4 linked regions of the Homo sapiens genome follow. The protein of the gene in region 1 interacts with the protein of each later gene in a pairwise test. Each region holds a gene or a part of one and is shown in the gene's direction. Other genes may lie near its edges.

Region 1 (6,921 bases):
GGAGTCTCACTCTATTGCCCAGGCTGGAGTGTAGTTGTGCGATCTCGGCTCACGGCAACCTCTGCCTCCCGGGTTCAAGTGATTCCCCCACCTCAGCCTCCCGAGTAGCTGGGACTACAGGCACACACCACCATGCCTGGCTATTTTTTGTATTTTTAGTAGACAGGATTTTGCCATGTTGGCCAGGCTGGTTTCGAACTCTTGGCCTCAAGTGATCTGCCCTCCTGGGCCTCCCAAAGTGCTGGGATTACAGGTGTGAGCCACTGCACCCGGCCTTCCTCCATAATTGAACACAGTCGCCCAGCTTAAGCCTCCAAGGGTCCAGTTCCAGGTCAAGATTTGCTGCTTTTTTTGTTTTGTTTTGTTTTGTTTCGTTTTGGTTTTGAGACAGAGTCTTGCTCTGTCACCCAGGCTGGAGTGCAGTGGCATAATCTTGGCTCACTGCAACCTCTGCCTCCTGGGTTCAAGTGATTTTCCTGCCTCAGCCTCCCAAATAGCTGGGATTACAGGTACCCGCCACCACGCCCAGCTAATTTTTGTATTTTTAGTAGAGATGAGGTTTCCATGTTAGCCAGGCTGGTCTCGAATTCCTGACCTCAGGTGATCCACCTACTTTGGTCTCGTAAAGTGCTGGGGTTACAAGAGTGAGCCACCGCGCCTGGCTGATGGGGTCTCACTATGTTGCCCAGCATGGCCTCGAAATCCTGGCCTCAAGTGATCCTCCTGCCTTGGCTTCCCAAGTGCCGAGATTACAGGCATGAGCCACTGTGCCCAGTCAATGAGCTTTTAATGTACATAATGTGGCTGAAGTGATGTGGGACTTTCAGGCTAGATCATAAAAAGATACAACTTCCACCTGGCTCTCAGCTCTTGGAAGGTGCTCGGGAGGCCAGCTCCCATGCTGGGAGTACACTCATGCCACTCAAGTATACTGGGAGGAATCGAGGCATCCCGCCAATCATAGCACCCATCTGCATGCCCTGAGAGTGAGCCACCTTGGAAGCAGATTCGCCAGCCCCCGTCAAACCTTCAGATGACTGAAGCCCTGACCAACTCCTTAACTGCAACCTTCTGAGAGGCCCTGAGCCAGAACAGCCCAGCAGCAAAGCCATTTCTCAAGTCCTAAGCTACAAAGACCACATGAAATCATAAGGATGGACCAGGTGCAGTGACTCACACCTGAAATCCCAGCATTTTGGGAGGCCAAGGCAACAGGATCACTTAAGCCCAGGGGTTCAAGACCAGCCTGGGCAACATAGTGAGACCCCCCCGCCCCCAGCTCTACAAAAAAGTATAAAAATTAGCCGGGAGTGGTGGCACATGCATGTAGTCCCAACTACTCGGGAGGCTGAGGCAGGAGAATTGCCTGAACCCGGGAGGCAGAGGTTGCAGCGAGCCGAGATCGTGCCACTGCACTGCAACCTGGGTGACAGAGCAAGACTCTGTCTCAAAACAAAAACAAAACCCAAACAAAACAACAACAAAATAACAAACAAATTAGCCGGATGTGGTGGCACATACCTGCAGTCCCAGCTACTCAGAAGGCCAAGGCCGGAGGATTGCTTGAGCTCAGGAGGTTGAGGCTGCAGCGGAGCTATGATTGTGCCACTGCACGCCAGCCTGGGTGACAGAGTGAGACCCCGTCTCTTAAAACAAATTTAAAAAAATGCTAGCTCTACGAGGGCAGGGATCTTTGTTTTGTTTGCTGTCATGTCCACAGTGCCTGGAACAGCATTGGGAACAGAGTACACGCTCTATGTGGTTGCCACGGTGATTATAACCTAACAGACCTTTGGTCTGCATATTCTGCGCTAAAAAAAAAAATCAAAAAACAAAAAACCTACCAGATCTGATTTATGTCAGGGCTAGCTCAGACTCTTACCTGTTTCCTGCCCACTCAGTGCCCATCTCGGCCAGTGAATGGGACATAGCTATGACCTCCCTCTGCACTGGGCAAATAGATTAGTAACTGGCAACTATGACAGGCGATCCACTCCAAACCTCGCCACTTCCCTCAGGATAAAATCCCAGGTCTTCTGTGCAGTTTCCAGCCCCCATCCTGCCTAGGATTCCACCATTCAGCCACAAGGAATCATGAACTGCTTGTAGTTTGCAAATACAGTAGTCTCCAGAGTGGAGTACATACACCCTATAAACAAAGCTTTGGGGTTCAACTGGAAAAACTTTAGAATATCTAGATTTGGGGGGTTTTATTGTTTGTTTTTTAGTCTTTTAAAAATAACTTTTTCCTTTTCTTTTTTCTTTTTTTAAAGACAAGGTCTTGCTATGTTGCCCAGGCTGGTTTTGAACTCCTGACCTCCAGTGATTCTCCCACCTTGACCTCCCAAAGTGCTAGCATTACAGGTGTGAACCATCATGCCCAGCTCCATTTATCTATCAATATTTTATATAACAGTTAACAGAATATATTGATATAATTGTATTTGTATATAATTTATAAATAATATCCATCTTTGAGGCCAGGAGTTTGAGACCAGCCTGGGCAACATAGTGAGACCCCGTCTCTACAAAAAAAATAGAAAATTAACCAGGCATAGTGGCATATGCCAGTAGTCCCAGCTACTTAGCAGGCTGAGGCAGGAGGATCGTTTGAGCCCAGGAGTTAGAGGCTGCAGTGAGCCACCATCAAACCACTGCACTCCAGCCTGGGCAACAGAGCAAGATCTTGTCTCAAAAAATAAATAAATGAATAAATATCCATCTGGGGGTGTAACTTTAACACTTTTACCTATAGGGGTGTGCAATGGAGAAAAAAATTTGGAGTCGTTGAACACAATGCTATTTTGCTCCTCAGAGAGTATCCGGCAGTCTCTGGAGACGTTTTTGGTAGTCACAACAGGGAGAGTAGGGAACCACTGGCATCTAGTGGGTGGAGGCCAGGGATGGTGTTAAATGTCCCCCAATACACAGGACAGTCCCCCACACAAAGAACTAGGCCGCCCAAAGTGTCAAGAGTGCTGGGCTTGAGAAGCCATTGCCCAAAAACCCCAGACTTAGTCTTGCTTTGGGGGCTCTGCACGGCTGCCTCATCTCCCCACTCTATTCCTCCCCTAGCTAAGACCTCCAATTTCAGTGACTCTACAAAGCATCCCCTCCTCCAATGAAGTTGCCATCTCTGTGTCCCCAGGCTGGGCCAGAGCCCCACCACCTAAGGGCTCCCTGATGTGCCCTGTACTGGGTTAGAATTGTCCGTCCCACGGGGTTCTTAACCATTGCAGATTCCCTGGATCCCTGAGACAGCCGGATTCTACCGGGCTACTAGAGACCAAGAATCTGTATTTTTCTCAAGCACCGCTCCCCCCAACCACACACACACTGCCTGCCCCTATCAAGGGCACACAGCAGGTGGCCCAGTGACTAGTTGAACGCCTACTGCAAGCCAGGCGCTATTACGCGATCCACTCGGGAATCTTGGCACATACTCCACTCCATGGTGTAGACACCAGGATTCTCCCCATTTCACAGAGGGGTAAACTGAGGTTGAGAGAGGTGACCGTAGCTAGGACAGAGACTCAGGGCAGGAAAAGGGCCCAGGTCCTCATGAGCGCCAGATTCCCGGGGAAGGAGGGAGAACAGAGAGGAGGGTGATGAACTGGGGGAGCGCGCGCTGGGTGGGGGGGCGCGGGGCCTCGCCGCGGCCTTCTGATGCGGCCCCGCCCCCACGAGGGACGTGAAGACGCGGACCCCGCGCAGCGTGGGGACATGTGACCGACTGCAGAGGCCGCGCCGCCTCCCCCGTCCGAGGTCTGCGCGCTCCGCCGCAGGGTGCAGACCCGGGGCGCCCGCCTGGGTTTGGGGCGCAAGAGCAGAGGCGGAGCCAGGGCGGAGCCAGCGCGCCGGGTCCCCCCTGAATCGAAAGCGAAACAGGGGCCGGGGAGGAAGGGCGGAGCCGGCCCCGAGGCACCGCCCCCTGCCCTGCGCGGCTGCTGGACCGACGGGCGCACCCAGGTAGGGGGGCGGCTGAGCCGCGCAGTGCGGACCCTCGCGGGGAACTGCGCCGCCGCCACCATGTCTCAGGAAGGTGTGGAGGTAAGCGATGGCTACGGCTGGGCCGGGGTCAGCCGCGACAGACCCCGAGGAGCGGCCGGGAGGCGCGGAGGGGGCTTCGCAGTTCCTGGGGACCCCCATCCTAGAACCCCAGATCCTTACCCCTGCCTGGCGCTCGCCCCCCTTGAAAAGGAAAGTGACTCCCACGTTTCCCCAGAGCGAAATGAGGCCTCCCCGAGGAAAAGCGGGGGCTGCAGGGTCAAAGGTCAGAGGCCAGAGATAACCTGGCCGCCCCCCCACACCTTAGGCTGGGACGCTCGCCCCAGTCCGCGCCTTCCCCCAACGCCCTGTGGGGACTTTGGCTTTTTCCAGGAAATGCCGTAAAGGGATGAAAGGCGGGGGGGGGGCGGCGGAGGCCAAAACCAAGGGTCAAGTTCGGGCCGGGAGAACGGTGCCTAGAGATGGGGGAGGGATGATCCCGTTTCCCCTTCCCCCACCGGAACCCCCCTGTCTCCATCCCAGCTGGAGAAGAGCGTCCGGCGCCTCCGGGAGAAGTTTCATGGGAAGGTATCCTCCAAGAAGGCGGGGGCTCTGATGAGGAAATTCGGCAGCGACCACACGGGAGTGGGGCGCTCCATCGTGTACGGTGAGGCTGCAGGGGTCCCGGGCCTGGTGCGGGGACCGCGCGTGGGAGCGCCGAGGGGGCGTGGTCTAGGGAGAGGCGTTGAGATCACCTCCCCCGGAGGTCCCAGCCTTGGGGAGGCTCTGCGTCGCGGCTCTGGGTGGCCTGGAACTCCCACAGACCCTTCAAGGGCCCTTCCCTTATATGCACTCTCCCCCGCAGGGGTAAAGCAAAAAGATGGCCAAGAACTAAGTAACGATCTGGATGCCCAGGTAACCTATCCCCTCCCCTCGCAAAGGACCGGGTCACGGGAGGGAGAGCAAGAGGGGGGACCCGACCCGTTCATGGTGACTGACCCCCCTCTGAAACAGGAGGGACCAGGCATTGTCGGTCCATAACTCATCACCCAATCTCACTTTTTCACCTCTCCATCATTTGTCCGGCCAGGGAGCCTGCAAACAGTAGGCGCTCATTATGTGCTGATTGTATTCAATGGGGGAGAGAGCCATGAAACTAAGCAATGAAAGGAGCCAGGATTATTGCCATCATAGCGGGGGCGCAGAGGTCAGAGAAGGCTTACTGGAGGAGGAGGTACCAAGTCTTAAAGGATGGGGAGGAGTGAGCCCTGGGAGGGGAAAGGGAAAGAAAGGCAGGGGTCTTGGGGTGGGGGAGGGAATGGCATAAGCAAAGGCTGGGAGGTGGGGAAGGGTTGTTAGTGGCAGTCTCTAGAAAGGCTAGGATGAGCAGAGGATTGGGGAGGAGAGAGAGGCAGGGGAATGGAACCCTTGTGTTGAATGAATGAATGAATGAATGAATGAATGAATGAATGAATGGCTTTGAAGCACAGGTGCATCATGGCTACTTTGCTTCTTTGACAGCTTTGGTGATGGGAACGCTGTGGATTTAGCCTGCCTGAAAGGCTTAGTGTAGGGCTGTTAAAGAGTATAATAGGCCAGGCGCGGTGGCTCACGCCTGCAATCCCAACATTTTGGGAGGCCGAGGCGGGCGGATCACCTGAGGTCGGGAGTTTGAGACCAGCCTGACCAACATGGAGAAACCCGTCTCTACTAAAAAATACAAAATTAGCTGGGCATGGTGGCGCATGCCTGTAATCCCAGCTACTCGGGAGGCTGAGGCAGGAGAATCACTTGAACCCAGGAGGCGGAGGTTGCAGTGAGCTGAGATCACACCATTGCACTCCAGCCTGGGCAACAAGAGCGAAACTCTGTCTCAAAAAAAAAAAAAAAAAAAAAATGCCGGGCGCGGTGGCTCACGCCTGTAATCCCAGCACTTTGGGAGGCCAAGGCGGGCGGATCATGAGGTCAGGAGATCGAGACCATCCTGGCTAACATGGTGAAACCCCATCTATACTAAAAATACGAAAAAAAAAATTAGCCAGTTGTGCTGGCAGGCCCCTGTAGTCCCAGCTACTCAGGAGGCTGAGGCAGGAGAATGGCGTGAACCCGGGAGGCGGAGCTTGCAGTGAGCCGAGATCGCACCACTGCACTCCAGCCTGGGCAACAGAGCGATTCTCCGTCTCAAACAAACAAAAACAAACAAAACCAGAGTATAACAAAACATGTATCATAGTCTACATTTATACATATAAAAGTATGATAAAAATGATAGCAGAGGGGCCAGGTGTGGTGGCTCACGCCTGTAATTCCAGCACTTTGGGAGGTTGAGGCGGGCAGATCACTTGAGGTCAGGAGTTCGAGATTAGCCTGGCCAACACGGTGAAACCCCTTCTCTATTAAAAATACAAAAAATTAGCTGGGCGTGGCAGTGCATGCTTGTAATCCCAGCTACTTGGCAGGCTAAGGCAGAAGAATCACTTGAACCTGGGAGGCAGAGGTTGCAGTCAGCCAAGATTGTGCCATTGCACTCTAGCCTGGGAGACAAGAGCGAAACTCCGTCTCAAAAATATAATAATAATAATAATAATAATAATAATAATAATAATATTAGCAGAGAGTAGCATTCATTGAGTACTTCCCACATGGCAAGATTCCAGGAATTTATTTATTTCATCACTGCAGTGACCCCAGGAGACAGGTCCTATTATTTATCCCCATTTCACAGACAAAGAAACTGAGGCCGAAGTCACTTGCCAGCAAGCAGGGGCAGCTGCGATTTGAACCCTGGCCACCTGGAGTCAGAGCCTGGGCTCTAACATGCCTGTCAGTGGGAACCCAGGGGGCAGGGAGTGGCTTGCCCAAGTCCCCACAGCTGGAAGTGATACAGCTGGGATTTGAACCCACATCTCTCTCCCACTTAGCCGAGCACAACGT
Region 2 (6,360 bases), on another chromosome or scaffold:
CAGATGTCTCTTCAAAATACTGATTTACTTTCCTTCGGGTATATACACAGAAGTGGGATTGCTTGATTATATGACAGTTCTATTTTTAATTTTCTGATGAACCTTCATATTGTTTTCCATAATGGCTGTACTAATTTACATTTCCACCAACAGTGTGCCAGAGTTCTCTTTTCTCCACTTCCTCTCCAACACTTGCTATCTTTTGTCTTTTTGATAATAACTATCTAATATGTGTGAGACGATATCTCATTGTGGTTTCAATTTGCATTATCCGATGATTGGTGATTTTGAAAATTTTTCATATACCTGTTGGCAATTTGTAGATTTTTTTTGAGAAATGTCTATTTAGATTTTTTGCCCATTTTTCAATTACGTTATTTGTTTTCTTACTACAGGTATTGAGTTGTTTGAGTTTCCTCTATACTTTGGATATTAACCCTTTATCAGATATGTGGTTTATAAATATTTTCTCCCATTCAGCGGTTTGCGTCTTCACTCAGTTTAGTGTTTTATTGGCTGTGCAGAAGCTTTTTAGTTTGATGTAATCCCACTTGTCTATTTTTGCTGATGCTTTTGGATTCATGTTCACAATATCACAATATTGGCCAGGCAAAAGTCATGGAGTTTCCTCTGTTTTCTTCTTATAGTTTTATCATTTTGAGTCTTTCTTACATTTCAGTCTTTTAATCCATTCTAAGTTGGTTTTTGTATATAATGTGAGACAATGGTCTAATTTCATTTCTTCTGAATGTGAATGTGGTCAAATGATTTTCAACAAGGGTGACAAGACTATTTACAAATGGTTAAGATGGTTAATGTAAATGGTTCATAAATTTTATGGTATGTATATTTTACCACAATTAAAAATTTGTAACTATAAACATGTGTAGGAGACCCAAACTTTTCTGAAATAGAAGATATATATGTATATATGCTGGTTTATATTTGCAGAAGCAAGGATAAAGGTGTCAAAGAATGTGCACCAAATTCTTAATATTGATTACCTCTAGAGCATTAGTTTTGGAAGAGATGTGTGCATCTTCCAGGAAGGGAAAAGACACTAATTTTTCTTTATATACCTCTGTACTCTTTGACTTGTTACAATGTGTACTCATTACTAGCACATATGTTTAATTTAATAGAGTCAGAAAACAATCTACAAGCAAAAGTCATTAAAGATTTTAGTTAGCAATTTGTACATTCACTATTACTGAAGGCAAGAATATTAGATAGAGCTCTGAGGATCCTATAACTTGCACAAATTGATCATAGAAAGGCATACTTGGTTTGAAAGTTGATACATCAGGTTGTAGTTCATGTTTTGATGACACTAATGTTAGTCTTTCCAAGTCTGGACAAATTGTTTATAAAATCATGATCATAGTTAAGTGACCATTTAAGGAAAAATGATCAGTTAAGATAAATTCTGCCTAAAGGTTATCAAAGGACAACTATGACAAAACGTGCCAGGGCGACACTTGGCTCAAGGCTAGTCTGTCATGTGACTTGCATAAAGAGGCACTTCGGTGCTTGGCTTCCATGATGAGCCTTCACTTCGCCCAGAGGGCAAAGAAGAAACATAATGAGACTTAATTGTACAATGGAAAAAGGCTATTGAAATGCTATTTATAACTTTATAAACACCTCAGGTATTAGCCAGAGACTCACACTGAAATTGACATCAAGAAAAGGTGTTGGGTAAATATGCAGCTCTAGGGAACATATCAAAGGACAGATATAGAAGGTACAGCCCAAACTCAGAAACCTCTCTTAACACAGCTCTCAACCCAACTCCTGACACCATGGCCAGCTGTTCCACCAGTGGGACCTGTGGCTCCAGCTGCTGCCAGCCAAGCTGCTGTGAAACTAGCTGCTGCCAGCCAAGCTGCTGCCAGACCAGCTCCTGCGGAACCGGCTGTGGCATTGGTGGTGGCATTGGCTATGGCCAGGAGGGCAGCGGTGGATCTGTGAGCACCCGTATCAGGTGGTGCCACCCAGATTGCCACGTGGAGGGCACCTGCCTGCCCCCCTGCTACCTGGTAAGCTGCACACCCCCATCCTGCTGCCAGCTGCACCACGCCGAGGCCTCCTGCTGCCGCCCGTCCTACTGTGGACAGTCCTGCTGCCGCCCAGCCTGCTGCTGCCACTGCTGTGAGCCCACCTGCTAAAAGCCAGGTTGCTGATCGCTTAAGAATGAAAGGGGAAGCACAGCAAAATTGTGCTGATTTCTGAAGAACTGTTCGATTTTACTTGGATGCTAAGTACCATGATGTTGTTAAGCTGCTCAGAGATAATGAAACTCCTAGTTAGGACACTGTGGATGTGCCGAATTCACTTACTGAAAGATGTATCAATCAGTGTTCTGGATAGCTTGCGTTGCTTGAGCAGAGGACCAGGATGGAATAGTTCATCATTTCAGTGACATCTCTGCTCCCCCAACTCTCTCTTGATGCTCATGCATCTTCAGACCTGGTTTTTCCTTGAATATCTCTGATTAATCCAAATAAAATGTTTTAATGTGCAAAGCAAACTGAGTTATGTCCTCCTTCTACCTTTAAACATGTCTTCTTGTAGCTGGTATTCAAGAGTGGATTTGCAATTTGATAATAATACCAAGGCATAACCATAAAGTCTAAACCAGAAAGATTAAATACAAAGTAAATTATGCTTGAATCCATCAGCTTAAAAATGCTCCATGAATTAAAGAATTTTTATAGTTCAAATATTTACATGCTCTAATCTATTATGATTAGGTCTAGACCAATAAAGGTTGACCTTTAGCTAAAATGTTAAGGTTGATCAAAGCTATTGATTTCTATCTAAATGTAATTCTACCATCTTTTGTCTCCTTCCATTTAATATACTAAATGTTCTCCTTCATTTATGCCCCAAAATCTAAAGAAATTGCATTACCTTCTAAATAGATTTAAAAATAGCTACTAGATACTACCTATTTTCCAAGAGAATTTAGGTTTAATTTCTACACCTTAGCCTTTCACATTCTTCCCACTGATCCTTGAATTGCTCTCTAAGCTTCAACTCCCACTATTCACCTTCATTTGATGTACGTATGCATAAGGTGTATCTTTGGTCTAAATGATAGTAGAAGAAACAGCTATAGAGAGCACCCGCTGAGTTCTACCATTGCCATTTGTCAGACAGAAGTGTTAGAAATCTGAAACAGCTCGATTATATTTTGCACTTTGCAACCCAACTTAAAAGATATTCTCTTAAGAAGTTAACACGCTGGACACGGTGGCTTACGCCTGTAATCCCAGCACTTTGGGAGGCTGAGATGGGTGGATCACGAGGTCAGGAGATTGAGACCATCCTGACTAATATGGTGAAACCCAGTCTTTACTAAAAATACAAAAAAAAAATTAGTCAGGTGTGGTCGTGGGTGCCTGCAGTCCCAGCTACTTGGGAGGCTGAGGCAGGAGTATGGCGTGAACCTGGGAGGCAGAGCTTGCAGTGAGCCAAGATCACGCCACTGCACTCCAGCCTGGGCAACAAGCAAGACTCTGTCTCAAAAAAAAAAATTAACACAACCTAGAACAAAACAAAACATATTTTACCATTTAATTTTTAAATTCTTCATTAGGCATTAGAGTGTAATACACAAAATACAATAGGATGCAAATATAGAAAGAAACACGTTTTCCACATTATTTACAAGCTCCCAGAACTTACCTCTATATTTAATTGGTAGCAATGATGGATTACACACAAAATTATGCAATTTCCAAGAGGAATAAAGTAGATGGCAGTACATTTTTCAAAGTGTCATAACTCCTAGATATTTTTTCCCGAGCCCGGTTCCACTACTAAATCCAAAAAATAAAATAAAATAAACCAAAAAACACATTTCCTAGTCTCTTTACAGCAAATAACAAGACTCTTTCATGAGAAGTACTACAGCTTGAAAGTTCTCTTTAATCATGTTTGAGTGGTATTGATATCCATGAATCAAGCCTTTTACTCCACCTATTCAATAAACATTTATTGAATCAGATTCAGTAAACATTTATTAAGGTTCTACCACAAACTAAGGACTCTGCTGGATACCTTCCTAAATACTATGTCAGTTTGGTTCCCAAGAACAGATTTCTGGTCTGGAACAGGAATAATAGTCACACATTCCAAATTGGTTGAAATCAAAGGAACTATAATCGGTAATTCAATAAGACATTGGAACAAAAAAAGGTGAAATCTGCGAATTATGTATGACCAAAGGTATTCCTTCAGTTCAGTAGATATCCAGATATCCAAAATTCAATAAAATTTAGTCTATATATCTAGGAGGAAAAAATAATAGTTAAATATAACAGCACAATTATTACTCTTAGCCTTAGAGGTATGGATAGATTGTCACGTGGAATAACTATTATGTAAAATGAGAGCATTCATTTGGACTAAAATGGAAGTACTCTTTGAACATGGGAAACCACAAACATATTCCAAAGAGCAAAGGACTGATATGAGGAGTCCAGAAGAAACTATAAAACAGTAATTTCTAAACTATTGCTCATAATGTGTCACAAGTATTTCAACATAAGCCAATCAGAGATCCACGGAGTAACAAATTTAAACAAAAACAAAGAAAATATGTTAACAATTTTGTAAACAGCAGCTGGTTCAGATATATAAAAGGACCAACGTGGAAGTCACCACCAAACCTCAGAAACTCCTCCAAGCAACCTAACTCTTAACCCAACTTCTGACACCATGACCTGCTGCCAGACCAGCTTCTGTGGATATCCCAGCTTCTCCATCAGTGGGACCTGTGGCTCCAGCTGCTGCCAGCCAAGCTGCTGTGAGACCAGCTGCTGCCAGCCACGCAGCTGCCAGACTAGCTTCTGCGGATTTCCCAGCTTCTCAACCAGTGGGACCTGCAGCTCCAGTTGCTGCCAGCCAAGCTGCTGTGAGACCAGCTGCTGCCAGCCAAGCTGCTGTGAGACCAGCTGCTGCCAGCCAAGCTGCTGCCAGATCAGCTCCTGCGGAACTGGCTGTGGCATTGGTGGTGGCATCAGCTATGGCCAGGAGGGCAGCAGTGGAGCTGTGAGCACCCGTATCAGGTGGTGCCGCCCAGACAGTCGTGTGGAGGGCACCTACCTACCCCCCTGCTGTGTGGTGAGCTGCACGCCCCCATCCTGCTGCCAACTGCACCATGCCCAGGCCTCCTGCTGCCGCCCGTCCTACTGTGGACAGTCCTGCTGCCGCCCAGTCTGCTGCTGTGAGCCCACTTGCTGAAAGCCAGTTTGCTTATTTTCAATTGCCTAGGTCACAGTGTCTCTGAACTGTTCATCCCTTGACCACCTCTGGACCACTAACAAGTTCTCAGACTTTGCATTGCTTGTGATGGAGACTACTAAGTATATGAGCTCACAATTCTATCTGATTCCATTCTACAATGAATACCTTGACCCTTCACTGGGGACACAGAAATGCTACAAAGCCACCTGCTGATCATCAATTTGCTTGGGATATACTATTTCTGATATTTCTGCAGGATTAAAAATTACTGACATGTTGTGGAATTTATCCATGAGAACTATCCACAAGTCTAATGTTTCCATGCTTTATAATCTATTTTATCTTGTTTACCTAAAATTTTTTGCAACATCAAAGACACCAAATTATAGCCAAGTGACATTCCTCAAGTCACCAGAGAGAATGGAAGCTCATCACCCAACATTCAGCTTCTAAGAAGTAGGCTGGACTTTCCACATTTTAACATCTGATCCATCCCTTGGTTTTTGGATCATAATGATCTTGCCTGCTGGATATTTCAGTTATATCTGTGATACAATGTCTTCTGTCATTTCTTAATAAATATTATATACTAGGCAAAGAAACCATTGTCTTTGTTTTCACTTGTACATCACCTGGTTTAACTGCTTATAATTCAAGAATGTCTACTTGAGGCCAAGAGCAGTGGTTCACACCTGTAATCCTAGCATTTTGGGAGGCTGAGGTGAGTGGATTACCTGAGCTCACGAGTTTGAGACCAGCCTGGGCAACATGGTGAAACCCTGTCTCTACTAAAAATACAAAAAAAAAAAAAAAAAATTAGCTGGGCGTGGTAGTGCACACCTGTAGTCCCAGCTACTTGGGAGGCTGAGGAAGGAGAATCGCTTGAACCCAGGAGGCAGAGGTTTCAGTGAGCTAAGATCATGCTACTGCACTCCATTACACTATGCAATAAACTGCAGCAAGCTCTCAAAATGGCAATTTCCTATATATGACACCAAAGAAGACATAAAGTGCATTAAAAAGTTAAGTAATGGTAAAAAGACACATATTTCCAAGTCGAAAGCAAATGTGGGAGCTTTTCTTTTATTGAGGATCATTGGCCATGTA
Region 3 (7,030 bases), on another chromosome or scaffold:
GGTGAGCGGATCTTGAGGTCAGGAGATTGAGACCATCCTGGCCAACACGGTAAAATCCCATATCTACTAAAAATACAAAAATTAGCCAGGCACGGTGGCATGAGCCTGTAGTCCCAGCTACTCAGGAGGCTGAGGCAGGAGAATGGCTTGAACCCGGGAAGTAGAGGTTGCAGTGAGCCGAGATCACACCACAGCACTCCAGCCTGGGCAATAGAGCAGGACTCTGTCTCAAAAAACAAAACAAAACAAAAAATTAAGAAATATGGTCTATATTGTAAGGCATTTTCTGTGGATCCAGGCCTGTTATGTAATTAGGACTGGGGTGGGAGAAGGACCGTCTTGTCTTATATTTAGACTTCTGATCTGATCACTAAATAAGTTACAGGTATTTTGATGTTGTCATGTTTAAAGTGTCATTTAAAATAAACAATTGAAATATTATCAATTTGGTAATCCCTTTTGTGGTTTTATATGTTTTATATATTCATTTTATAATACACTAAAAGCCTCACAAAATGGCAGTAGACTGCAGTTCCTAACCCCTGAGGGGCCGTGTTTCATGATGCTATTATACACATCTAAAACTAAAATAAATATTAATGAAAACGACGTTTTCCATATTAAGTGAAGAGAGTTAAAGGTACATATTTTATTTCTATAAAGTGACAAACACTTGATCGCTGTAAATGTGAATACAACTTTTATTTTTAAACCTTTCAAGGGAATTAGATCTATTTTCCTGCTGTTTCCAAGCCTTCGGTAACCCTCTGAGTGTGTTTGTATTCACTAGGAAGGAACATTTCTGTGGAATTAATCAAATGGAGAATTCAATGTTCCTTTTAGATAATTTTGGCCATGTTCCATTGCGAACTTTCTAGTCTGCATTTCATCTCTTTCCTGGGAAAAGACCCACATATTCCAAATCCTCTGCCTTTTCTCTACTTGTTAGTGAAGAACAATATAGCAAAACTGCTATGTACAGAATTAATAATCATGTGCATTCAGCAAGGCTCTCTGCTGGGAATTTCATCACTAGAATAAGGCAAAACGCATGAGAATAAGAGTTCAAATGTAGTCAGTACAAACTAGTATCAAAAACTCTGTTGTATTATCGTTAATTGCTCCTCTGATTTTGCTAAAATTAAAAGAAAAATTATGTGGGGGGAGAATTAGAAAATATTCAAAGCTCCTAATATATTCCAGTAAACCCTGAGATGACAAATCTCATTTTCCAAGGAAAAGCAGTGCTAATTTTTTTTTGTAACAACAAAGAATTCATGTTCAATGCCTAATTAAAACCTGGAAATCTATATGCGTTGTTTCTTTTTTTTTTTTTTTTTTTTTTTTTTTTTTTTTTTTTTGAGACGGAGTCTGGCTCTGTCGCCCAGGCTGGAGTGCAGTGGCACAATCTCGGCTCACTGCAAGCTCCGCCTCCCGGGTTCACGCCATTCTTCTGCCTCAGCCTCCCGAGTAGCTGGGACTACAGGCTGTGCATTGTTTCTTAATGGCTTTCCAAATTTACAAAACAATCAGAGTCCTTATCTATCACTGGCTTTATGTTTCATATCAGCTTTTTTATTCATCTTACAGAATGCATTTTGCCTTGCAGATGAATTCTAGCTATTTTATCCATAGCTATAATGGAATAGCTGCTGCTATTATTTATGCTCTATACATGTTACTTTGGCCCTAAAGCCTGAAGGAACCCATTGTTGTTTTCTACCACTGATGATTTTATCTGCACTTCTGCATCTGGGCAATTGTTCACAATAGTCACAAAGACCTAGCACTTGGTCTGAGAATCCTACCTGCTGAGGAGTTTTATTTGGCCAGTTTGGTAAAGGACATTTAAATGAAGATATCTAAAGCTAGCAGAAAACAGAGATTTTGGAGTCATCAGCACATTTGGGATGGTGGAAGCCACAGCCAAGGAGGGGATGTAGTACACGAAGACCTCAGGGTAAATGTGCAGAGCCCTTATTAGGTATTCAGTAAAGACTTGAGGAGTAAAAGAATGAACTAGAAAATGACAATGTACTGATTATTAATTTATATTTGAGTAAAAAAGACTGTTATTTCCATCAAAATCTGCCTCTAGAATTTTCCAGCAAGAAAGTAAGTGATGATAGTTATTAAAAGCCCTAGCAACAGTTTATATCCTTGAGGTAAAACCATCCTGTTTCAACAGATACCATATTCTCATTGAATTCCACATTAGCTTATGATAAACACAAGATGTTTTTCATAATCTAGATGCAGGTTTTATGCATTTTTTTTTAGCAAAACATACAGGGAACTGCCAAGATGGGAGAGTAATCTTTCCTAAATCACTCCAAATGTCACCATGACTATAAGCATACTTTCCTAAATTGGGGGATTTTTGCTTAAGAAAATATAAGTTCATTCAAATGCTTCACTCACATTATATTAAGGTTTCATCATTTATCCTATAAACAAAATTCTGCTTTTATATACATTAATCACTTTGTCATTCATAGGATCAAACCAAAATGACAACTGCTCACTTTTACTGTCAATACTGCACAGCATCACTTCTTGGGAAGAAATATGTACTAAAGGATGACAGTCCATACTGTGTTACATGTTATGATCGTGTATTTTCTAACTATTGCGAGGAATGCAAAAAACCAATTGAATCTGATTCTAAGGTAAGTCTCACCTCAATTTACAGAATTACTGCCTATGAACAGCAAACAAGTGGGTTGGAGTGCCTCTTTTCATTTAGTGTTGACTTTCAACACTATTTCTCTGCTACTGGATATATAAGGATCTTAAAAGTTACCAGCAGTCAAGCTCCAGCCACTACACTTAGCACTATGAAATACAACATATGCTTAATCCTCACATGATCTTCTAAGGTAGCTGAGAATGCTAAAGATTAAAGGGGTTAAGCTATTTGTCCAAAGTTACACAGCTAGAATTTTCCTGCTGTTTCCAAGCTCTCAGTAACCTTCTGGGTGTGTTTGTTATTTCTGGAATGACAAGGGTATAAATAAATGCATAAAGAATTGAAGTTGAAAGGATTCAAAATCTGTTTTCTGATGTAAAATCAGCTTCATTTCTTACTAAACCCTATTGATACCTCTCACACCTACCACCCCTTCCTCCGACATGCTTATTCTTTCTTTCTTTCTTTCTTTCTTCTTTTCTTCCTTCCATCCTCCGATTATTTTCCTCTCTCTTTCTCTCTCTCTCTCTCTCTCTCTCTGTCTCTTTCTTCCCTCTTTCTGCCTTTGTTTTACTTAGGTGATGTTATTTTTTGTCTGTTTAGTTACATCTCAAAGAGTAATAGAACATTGCACCCTAAAATTTTTAAAAATCATTCCATGAAAAACCTCTATTATAGTTTATAAAAAGAATATAGGCAAATTTTGAAGACACAGCAGAGAATGTATTTGTTTTTTCCCAGCTGCCTTAAGTGACCCACCAAGAAAGCCCTGGGCTCTAGCTCTTAATTACCCCAGAGAGTCTCCTCTCTATGGGTAACAGTTTCAGTAACAACTTTCCCTCACGCTACTAGCACAACCTACTGACATGAGAGTCCCAGGAGTGTTCAGTTTTGTTTCATAAAATGGCCTGTATTGTCACAACCACATTTAATTAACTTTTATTTACTGTCTCAAAGGATCTTTGTTACAAAGACCGGCACTGGCATGAAGGATGCTTCAAGTGCACCAAATGCAATCACTCTTTGGTGGAAAAGCCTTTTGCTGCCAAGGATGAGCGCCTGCTGTGCACGGAGTGCTATTCTAACGAGTGCTCCTCCAAGTGCTTCCACTGCAAGAGGACCATCATGCCTGGTAGGGTCTCAAGGGGGCTCCTGTCTCTAACTGAAGCTGTGATGCTTTTCATTAAGTCCCAGCACATGAGGAGTGCAGCAGCTCCCAAAACCCTGGTTTTGAGAAAGATATCTTTCTTACTCTCTCAATCTTCTTCCGTGTACTTTAGAAATAAAAAGATTATTCATTCATTATCCTTGAACAGGTAAATTACAGTGTTCTGTGTATTTTCATATAGTCTAATTCATAGAAACATTTCAAACCAGAATCTTACCCATAAAATAAAGACAAAATGTATACCAATAACACTACATTAAACACAGTGCCCTAGGCACAATCAATGGCATCAGAAAGAGTGATTCATCATAGGCGATTGGGGCCAACTGCCATTTTGTAGCTTGACACAAACTGTTTTGAGGATCGGTTATTGTTATTCTCTCTTAGGGAAGACAGGGTTCATGTATATCATTCCACTTTTGGCAAGGACTAATTCTTTATATTTTGATCTTCTCAATCTCTATGGTCAGCAGCATAAGAACATAATTCATTCTCTGCCACTCTTGCTCTCTCATTTTCTTATTATGGATTCAGAGAATTTCTAGAAGGCCATAACTGCACAGTATAGTCTCAGTAGTTGTGCTCTGGGCATTTTTAATACCCTTGTAATGATTATTATGGCCCAATTTATCCAAACCATGTGAAACCATTAGGAGTCTCCATTAAAAGTACTTTTACATCTCCAGATTATAGGTTATGCAGAGCTTGAAAAAGTTTTCAGTCTAAGAGTGATTCTCCATCATCATGGCTAAACTTTATTAACCATTTTTTTTTCTCCAGATGAATGGGTTTTTTTGAACCTGAAAAAATACTATTTTTCTAAAAGGACAATTCATTTATCATCTTAACTTAAAACGTTTTTAAGTAATTTGATCTGTATTTGCTTAAAAAATAAAATTATGCTTGACTTATACTAACATGGCCTTACTTTTGGAGTACAGGTTCCCGCAAAATGGAATTTAAGGGAAACTACTGGCATGAAACCTGTTTTGTGTGTGAGAATTGCCGACAACCTATAGGGACAAAGCCTTTGATCTCCAAAGAGAGTGGCAATTATTGTGTGCCATGTTTTGAGAAGGAGTTTGCTCACTACTGCAACTTTTGTAAGAAGGTAATTTTCTAAAGAGGGTGAAGCTTGTGGAAACTCAGACTATTTCTTTTTAGCTGTATCATATATTTAGAATGAACTGATACTATTATGTTATATCTGTAATCAACACACCCATGGTAGTTTGGACTTTCAACATGTCCAAACCACTAGTTGTCACGATGAGCATGACCATCTTTTTTTTTTTTATTAACCATAAAATTCCAGCCACAACAAGAATTTAATATTCCAAACAGCTCAAGTGATTTGGTATTCCAGTTCATTTCACTGTTTTTTGTTGTTGTTGTTGTTTTATTTTTTTGGGATGGAATCTCGCTCTGTCACCCAGGCTGGAGTGCAGTGGTACAATCTCGGCTCACTGCAACCTCTGCCTTCCAGGTTCAAGAGATTCTCATGTCTCAGCCTTCCAAGTAGCTGGGATTACAGGTGCGTGCCACTGTGTCCAGCTAATTTTTGTATTTTTAGTAGAGACAGGGTTTCACCATGTTGGCTAGTCTGGTCTCGAACTCCTGACCTCAGGTGATCCACCTGCCTTGGCCTTCCAAAGTACTGGGATTACAGGCATGAGCCACCACACTCGGCCCATTCACTGCTTTTATACAAGATCTCACGTATTCTGGGAGAAAGCACAGGTCTCTCTTTGAATACAGATGTTTCTTAAAAAATAATGTTTGATCTATTCAGTATTAACTGTTTCAGAGAAATATGGATTTGCCTCACAAAGTGACTAAGGGAACCAAGTTAAACAGGATGTTTAACTTCTCACATTCTTTCTCAGCAATGCAAATGTCTTCTTGACTTGAAGCTTTTGTATTTCCTATGAGTAGGGCAATCGGCTCAAGAGAGTGCCAAGATCATGGGGGAAGTTCAGTAGACAAAAGACAGAAAGAAGACTAAGAGCAGCAAGTTCCTTCACTCCAGTTCCAGGATCATGTAGGGCCTTCTGACTTGGCTTCCCACTCAAAAAAAACATTTTCTAAGAGAAAAAAAAAGTAATATTTTTGAAGTAAACTTCATCCAATTCTTTTTTTATCCTCTAAGCTTTTATGTGAAAAAGTAGCTCTAACACCTTGATGAAGCCTGTCTGCATTCCATAAAATATATATGGAGGTTCTCAAAGAAATCCTTGACCTGCGAGGCATCATAAGTTTAAAATGACACCATAAATTGTCATGAGAAAGCTGAATCATGAAAATACATTGGATTAGTATAGTGGTTTCAAAGTATTTTTTATCTGTGGGTTACTTTGGCAGAACTCTTAAGCCCATTTGTATATCTGGACAGCTGGAAGTCACACTACCACTTTCTATGCACACATATGTGAACACACATGCACATACACACACACACACACACACGCAGTTAACTGTTTAACATACATAACCAATACCACTACTGCATTTAAAGAGGCAGCAATACACTATGCTAAGTTATCATTATTAAATTACACTATGTTGATGGCTGAGAATTACAATTGATCACATGACATAAAATAATCTTATGACTGAGACCTTCATTACTCTACCAAAACACTGGCTTAGAAGGTGACTTTACAAGCAGCAATCAAGCCATATGACATATGAAGCTCCAAAGAATTACCAGGGTCAATGACGGCATTTAAAAACATGCTGGAGCTGGGCATGGTGGCTCACGTCTGTAATCCCAACACTTTGGAAAGCCAAGGTGGGAAGATTGCCTGAGGCCAGGAGTTCAAGACCAGCCTGGGCAACATAGTGACACCCTGTCTGTATAAAAAAAAAAAAAAGTTTAAAAATTAGCCAAGTATGGTGACACGTGCCTGTAGTCCCAGCTACTTGGGTGGCTGAGGCAGGAGGATCACTTGGGCCCAGAAATTCAAGGCTGCAGTGAGCTATGATTGAGCCACTGTACTCCAGCCTGGGTGACAATGAGATCCTATCTCTAAAAAATATACAAAACTTAAAAACTAAAGAAAATAAAATCTTGCTGGAAATAAAATGAATAGGTTTATCTCACTGTTTTGAGAGACAACTGAGTTGGCCAATTTTAGGCTGCATTTCTTAAAGACAGACTAAAACAGTAATGA
Region 4 (7,030 bases), on another chromosome or scaffold:
CCAAAGTGCTGGGATTACAGGCATGAGCCACTGCGCCCGGCTTTTTTTTTTTTTTTTTTTTTTTTTTTGGAGATACGGTCTTGCCGTGTCACCTAGGCTAGAGTGCAGTGGTGCTATCTCGGCTCACTTCAGCGTCAACTTCCCAGCCTCTAGCCATCCTCCCTCCTCAGCCTCCAAAGTAGCTGAGACTGTAGTCCTGTGCCACCATGCCCAGCTGATGTTTGTATTTCGTGTAGAGACAGGGTTTTGCCGTGTTGCCTAGGCTGGTTTGGAACTCCTCAGTTCAAGTGCTCCACCAACCCTCAGCCTCCCAAAATACTGGGATTACAGACGAGTGCTGAAATTATTTTTAGTTTTTTAGGTTAACTCATTTGACATAAGAAGTACGAATAGATAGCCAGAGAGCAAACAAAGATAGCTAGAGCAATCATGTGAAATGGCAACTGTGTGGATGTTGAAATATTGATCATTATTTCTTTGGCTGTTTATGGTAGAGAAAGGCATTTGAAGAAGAAAGAGCCAGTTGGTTAAAGCAGCAGTTTCTAAATATGACTACCTTTGACCACCAGAACTCAGAAAATGTGAAACTTTTCAGTGCCTTCTCAGGAAGTGAGTACTTTATAAACTCTTTAATTTGAACATGCATATAAATAAAATTATTTACATATTACAAAATACTACATATTATTAATACAAAACTTTGGAAATCACCAATTAGAGCTCTCTAATTATAACTAAAAGTCAACTTTTTTTTGTTTGTTTTTGAGACGGAGTCTTGCTCTGTCGCCCAGGTTGGAGTGCAGTGACGTGACCTTGGCTGACTGCAACCTCTGCCTCCCAGCTTCACGCGATTATCTTGTCTCAGCCTCCTGAGTAGCTGGGATTACAGGCATGTGCCACCACGCCTGGCTAATTTTTGTATTTTTAGTAGAGACGGGTTTTTACCATATTGGCCAGGCTGTTCTTGAACTCCTGACCTCAGGTGATCCACCCATCTCAGCCTCCCAAAGTGCTGGGATTAGGCATGAGCCACTGCGCCTGGCCTAAAAATCAACTTTAATATTTTATTTACTGTAGTGAAAGTGAGGATGAGAGGGGGACTGTGCATGCCCAAAGTAACTTTTGTTGTGAGTTTGTAATAATGCGAAGTTTTTGAAAATTTACATTGAGAATTTCTTTTTTCAAGATGTAGTCTTGCTCTGTCACCCAGGCTGGAGTGCATCTCGGCTCTCTGCAGCCTCAGCGTCCTGGGCTCAGGCAATCCTCCTTGCCTCAGCCTCCTGAGTAGCTGAGACTATAGGCACACACCACCATACCCAGATAATTTTAAAAACTTTTTTGTAGAGACAAGCCCTCGCTATACTACCCAGGCTGGTCTCAAACTCCTGGCTTAAGCAGTCATTCCGCCTCACCTTCCCAAAGTGCTAGGATTACAGGTGTGAGCCACCCCACCCAGCCTAGAAATATTTTTAAAACTAGATCCTTTTGGCTGGGCACGGTGGCTCACGCCTGTAATCCCAGCACTTTGGGAGGCCGAGGCAGGTGGATCACGAAGTCAGGAGATCGAGACCATCCTGGCTAACACAGTGAAACCCCGTCTGTACTAAAAATACAAAAAAATTAGCCAGGCATGGTGGCGGGCCCCTGTAGTCCCAGCTACTCGGGAGGCTGAGGAAGGAGAATGGCGTGAACCCAGGAGGTGGAGCTTGCAGTGAGGCAAGATCGCATCACTGCACTCCAGCCTGGGTGACAGAGCAAGACTCCATCTCAAAAAAAAAAAAGATCCTTTTAAACATGGGTGGACTATGCAACAAAGATAAGCAAGATTAATGATAATTAATTTGAATTTGTTCCATCTCTTTCCTCACTCAGAACCGCAGATGAATCATCCTGATGATTTACCTTCACTATATTTAATGCCTCACCATATGTACTGCCTTTTTCTCTTACTTGTTTTACAACAGGTTCTGATTGGGACAATCTTATAGTGCACTCGAGGCAGCCGCAAAAGAAGCCTCACAGTGTGTCTAATGGGTCTCCAGTTTGCATGTCTAAACTTACTAAATCTCTTCCTGCTTCACCTTCCACTTCAGACTTTTGCCAGACACGTTCCTGCATATCTGAACATAGGTATTTGTCTATAGGTGATCTTTTCACGTGTTTCTAAAAATTGCTAAAGTTGCACTGCTAAGGGAAAGGTGGCATGTCTGTAGTATTAGCAACAATAGAGATTTTGGAGAGGAATTTAGTAGATGATTTATTCATTCTACAAATATTGAGTGTCCAGTATATATAGACACTGTGCTAGATGCTGGAAATACACTAGTGAACAGGTAGATCTGTTGTCTTCTTGGAGGTAAATCATATGATGTGTGTCTTTTTATTTCACATTTAAGATACAATTTAGAATGTAGTCTTAATTATAGGAGTTAATATTTTAAGCACTTTAATTGTATTAAATGGAAGGATATTGTTTTGACAGTTTTTGTAGAGTACATATCTTAACACTTTTTTCCGGCATGCCCATTTTATTGTTGTTGAAGGGCAAAGAACTGAGAAAAGCCTGTTCCTGTTGAGTGAAAAAGATTTGTGCCCAAGGATGACAGTGTAAAAAAACATGGCTCTCCACCCTGGGAAACCCATATGTTGCTCTTAATTGCTACATTTTGGTGTTTTCCTGTATCTCAAGTTATTATATCATTTTCTAAGATAAGATCAATACTCTGCTTCAGTGCCAATTCCAAGATTAGTTTTAAACGAAGAAGAGGAAGCAGGTAGAACATTCCTAGTAAGACAGAGAGGAATAGAAAAGATCAGAGGGGTAAGTTGGAAAGTATGGTGGTAATCTCTTTGCTCTTAATTAAAAGTAGGAGATAATGGCCTTGGAAAACAGTCAGAGCTGAAGCAAACTCGGCCTGTGTTAGAGACTGGAGTGGAACTAAGTGTCGAAGAAGCCAGCTGGCCCTTGGGCCAAGAATTATGAAATAGATGGAGTTTAAAACAAGAAAGGAAGCTTTTAAAAGAAGGAGGAGAACACACTATAAGTTGTAGTTGACTTTTAAGAGGTGGGGGGATTAGGACTCCAAGTAAATGTTAGAGGGGATGAAAAAGAGCTAGGTAAGAGCACTCTAGCCAAGTGTAGGAACCCTGAGGGTGGGACACACCTCATACATTTGCAATGGTGACCAAGACCTAGAGGTGTGAGATGAGGATGGAGAGATGTAAAAGTTCAAATATACAGAGAGGATAAGATCGTGAACCCACGTGTACCTATGACTCAGGTTCAGCAATTATTAACTCTGATCAATATTGTTCATATATAATCCCACTCTGCTTGCTCTCTCCACCCCAGCCCCAACACATCTGGGATTTCATTTACAGAATATTTTAGTGTGCATTTGCAGGTCAAATATTGTTCTAAGGGGAATAGAAAAAACACTAGTTTTAAGCAAGAGAGTGAAAAAAAGTCTTAAGTTTTAAAAAGATTACTGTTTTATAATATTGAAAACAGATTGTAGGAGTCTGTAATATAAACCAGGAAATCCAGTTAGGAGGCACTATTGGAGTGGAAACGAAAGACAATGGTAATTGGACTAGGGTCATAATATGAAGGAAGAAATGCTTGGATTTGGGATCTATTTTGAAGTTAGACCAGTAGATGAGTTGAATATGGGAAGTGAAAGTTTATTTATTTTACAATCAAAAGATAATGTGTAAGCTTATAGTATTTTCTTACATAGAATGTTATTCAAACTTCTAAATTTGACCAGTCAGAACTATCTGTATAGATATAGACACAAATTCTAGCCACCATTCACAAATAATGCATTTTATATCTAAGAGATAGCATAACATAGTTGTCTCAATTGTTTTTATATATTTTAAATATTTAGCTTTTTACATCATTTTTAGTTGTGAAATATTTGACATAAACATTTCTTGAAGACATTGTTTTATGTTTAATAAAGTTCAGCATTTAGTACCTAAATCATAGGGTGTTGCAAGTTAAATGTTAATGTATGTAAAGCACTTAAAAACATTTAGTGACAGACTATAAAAATAAAAATATATGTAAACAAATATAAACATGCTTTTTTTGTTTCTGAGTGCTCCACTAAACAACATCCGTGGCATAGAAACAATTTTGGAGCTTAAAGAAATTCAAGGTATTCATTGTTAACTAGCCTCTAAGAATAAAACAAACAGAAAAAAGTTTTATAACTAATAGAGAAGCTGTGCAGCCTGACTTGGTTCTTCACATTTTAAATTATTTGATAAACTTGGTTCTCTTGCTCCTGAAGCATTTTGGATCTCGGTTTATATTAATATTGCAACAAAATAATTAGGAGTATTTGTAGCTAATTTCTACAACATCCTCATTGTTCCTTCACTGTAGAATGGAATTTTATATAAAGGCTGTGCCTTAGATTCCAGGCAAGGAGACTTGTGCGTAAGTTACCTAAAAAACTTAGTTTGATCATTTGTACAGGGATTCTGATGACCGAATTACTATAAGTATTGGTAAATAAATTTATAGTAATTTGGTCATCAGAATCCCTTGTACAAATGATTAAACTAGGCATGCACTACTACTCCCAGCTAATTTTTTGTAGAGACAGGGTTTCACCATGTTACTCAGGCTAGTCCTGAATTCCTGGGCTCAAGCAGTTCGGCTGCCTCAGCCTCCCAAAGTGCTAGGATTACAAGTGTGAGCTACTGCTCCCAGCCGTTTTTTTTTTCCAAGTAAAATTTTAAATTATATTTTTGGCCTAGATTTTTAGAATTAAAAGGAACTTATTTTTTTTGAAGAGTGCCACATTATGAGGTTAAAGTACAAAAGAAGGAGAGGATAGTCACTAAGATCTGCCTTTCTTTTCCCAACAGTTCAATCAATGTACTGAATATAACTGCTGAAGAAATTAAACCAAATCAGGTTGGAGGAGAATGTACAAATCAAAAATGGAGTGTGGCATCAAGACCTGGATCACAGGAAGGTTGCTATAGTGGATGCTCCTTGAGCTACACAAATTCTCATGTAGAAAAAGATGACTTACCTTAGACATGTGGACTGGAATTTTTTTCATTAATGTGTTCATCAAGTTTCACATCTAAGTTGAAACAGGGTGTGTCATAAAGTCAGTTATCTCTAATAACTTAAGATGGTCTGAGTTGTTTGTTTGGACTTCCCTGTCTTCCCCCAAAGAGTTGAAATCTTAAATCTATTTAAAAGGATATAAAAGCTTTGGATATGTATTTTTAGTAACAGAAGCATCTGGTTCTGTGAATAAAGGAATGTATAGATGTTTGGATGGAAACAAAAGCACTAGACTGAGTTTCCTCTTATAGGTATTAAAAATAGCACTTTTAGGAAACTGATTATTGTAAATGTTTAATTTTGTCTCAAATATAGTTGGCATTGGAAGTTTAGCCTTTACTTGAATGTATACTGTAGATTTTTAACAAAGCGAGTTCTATATTTATTATGTTTAGTGTGGTTTGAAATTACCTCTTTCATATGTTTTAAATAAAGTGAAATTTATGTATGTTTTGTACATAGATACACATGATTATGTTAAGAGGCTTTAAGATTTAAAAGTTTCACACAACCATAAGTATAGTATTTCATGCCAGTAAAATTTTTTTAGTGGTATTCTGTTTACAGATGTATTAGGACCATTGATGCATTACATTTAAGAATTCTCTTTAATACATCTGGGCAATAAATATTGAAAGGTATTCCATGAAGCTGAGTTCTTTAGATAATCAACACTACTAACATTACATTTTTGAGATTTTTATGACATTAGATTTTTATTTTGTATATGTAGAATATTATAATTTTTAAAAGGACTATTGATGATAGAAGAATAGGGGCAAGACGACAAAAGTACCTTTGAATAAAACAATTTAAGAAATTGGTTTAAGATATTGGATGATAGAAGATATTTAAGATATCTAGATGGTGATATTTTCCTTACAAGATGGGTACCAGTATAGTAATATCTGTATACTAACTAGGGCTTTGTATTGTCAATAATTTTTTAATAATTTTTTAATGAGGTATTTACCACTGAAGAAATATGATAATATAAAACCATCAAATTTTATAATTGAGATGATACTCTGGAAAAACATGTCATTTCATTTTCAGAAAACTCTTAAGCTCTCTTCAGTCTCTGTAATGTTTCTGATTGCATGTTTCTTCATGAAAAGTATGTTGTTGTTTTGATAGTAATAATAATAAATGTAGGCTCAGCTCTTTCCCAGGATTTTCATCAAAAAGCTTTAAGTGCCTAACCCTGCTTGTCTCTGTACATAGAAGCCTGCACAGATCCAACCCTTGCTAGGTATCATAGTTTAGGCCCATTTACCTTCCCCTGTACTGGCAGTTCAGCCGCTTACATGCACTCACCCTGTTTGTGGCTATTTTAAATTCATATTATTAAAAAACAAAAAAAACCCACCTATTTGTGTTGTCCATTCACTATACGTAACTATGTAACTCTTTGGAGTTGCATAGCAGCAGCCATTTTTTCAGGGCTGATAGGATATCATTAAGAGTGTCTTATGAGACATTAGTGGATATACTCATAGTAACCATATTTATAGTTTTAAAGAGCTAGCTCTTGAGCATTAGTCACTACCTTCAGCTTGATGCATGGTCACTTCTTTACTATTTAAAATACTACACATTGTACAAAATATCGAAGACACTACCATATGCTAAAGGAAGAAATCTAGCTGGGATATAGGATTTTTGTTGTTTTTGTTTTTGTTTGTTTTGCTATTTAGCAATAACATGGTCAAAAAGGCAATCAGAAATTTTAAATACAGTTAATGGATACATTTGGCAACAATTTTCCCCCGAGGGTTTTCCATGGTGTACTTTGCAAGAAATAAGCACTCTAATTTTTAAAGTAAATCTCTTATTTTAGCAAATATTATATTTCATGACAATGGAGTTCTAGAAAGCAGCATCTGTTTTTTGTTGCGTGTTTCCATTTTAAAGTGAGTTGAGTTCTCAAATTGG

Evidence for each region.
Region 2: the proteins of SHFL (region 1) and KRTAP1-5 interact in binary tests that used the Homo sapiens proteins (3 or more experiments, as listed by UniProt).
Region 3: the proteins of SHFL (region 1) and FHL5 interact in binary tests that used the Homo sapiens proteins (3 or more experiments, as listed by UniProt).
Region 4: the proteins of SHFL (region 1) and SSX2IP interact in binary tests that used the Homo sapiens proteins (3 or more experiments, as listed by UniProt).

Annotation. Positions count from the first base shown.
Region 1 is NC_000019.10:10,082,399-10,089,319, forward strand, and holds the start of SHFL (shiftless antiviral inhibitor of ribosomal frameshifting protein), read left to right. Parts: upstream 1-3,918; 5' UTR 3,919-4,029; coding exon 4,030-4,050; intron 4,051-4,530; coding exon 4,531-4,654; intron 4,655-4,852; coding exon 4,853-4,902; intron 4,903-6,712; coding exon of another isoform or gene 6,713-6,921.
Region 2 is NC_000017.11:41,025,521-41,031,880, reverse strand, and holds KRTAP1-5 (keratin-associated protein 1-5), read left to right. Parts: upstream 1-4,672; 5' UTR 4,673-4,725; coding exon 4,726-5,250; 3' UTR 5,251-5,855; downstream 5,856-6,360. Other genes in the region: KRTAP1-4 (keratin-associated protein 1-4), read left to right, coding at 1,803-2,168. UniProt on the Homo sapiens protein: In the hair cortex, hair keratin intermediate filaments are embedded in an interfilamentous matrix, consisting of hair keratin-associated proteins (KRTAP), which are essential for the formation of a rigid and resistant hair shaft through their extensive disulfide bond cross-linking with abundant cysteine residues of hair keratins.
Region 3 is NC_000006.12:96,601,104-96,608,133, forward strand, and holds part of FHL5 (four and a half LIM domains protein 5), read left to right. Parts: exon of another isoform or gene 1-49; intron 50-2,498; 5' UTR 2,499-2,510; coding exon 2,511-2,669; intron 2,670-3,646; coding exon 3,647-3,821; intron 3,822-4,798; coding exon 4,799-4,968; intron 4,969-7,030. UniProt on the Homo sapiens protein: May be involved in the regulation of spermatogenesis. Stimulates CREM transcriptional activity in a phosphorylation-independent manner.
Region 4 is NC_000001.11:84,645,462-84,652,491, reverse strand, and holds part of SSX2IP (afadin- and alpha-actinin-binding protein), read left to right. Parts: intron 1-494; coding exon 495-609; intron 610-1,964; coding exon 1,965-2,130; intron 2,131-4,884; coding exon 4,885-5,059; 3' UTR 5,060-7,030. UniProt on the Homo sapiens protein: Belongs to an adhesion system, which plays a role in the organization of homotypic, interneuronal and heterotypic cell-cell adherens junctions (AJs).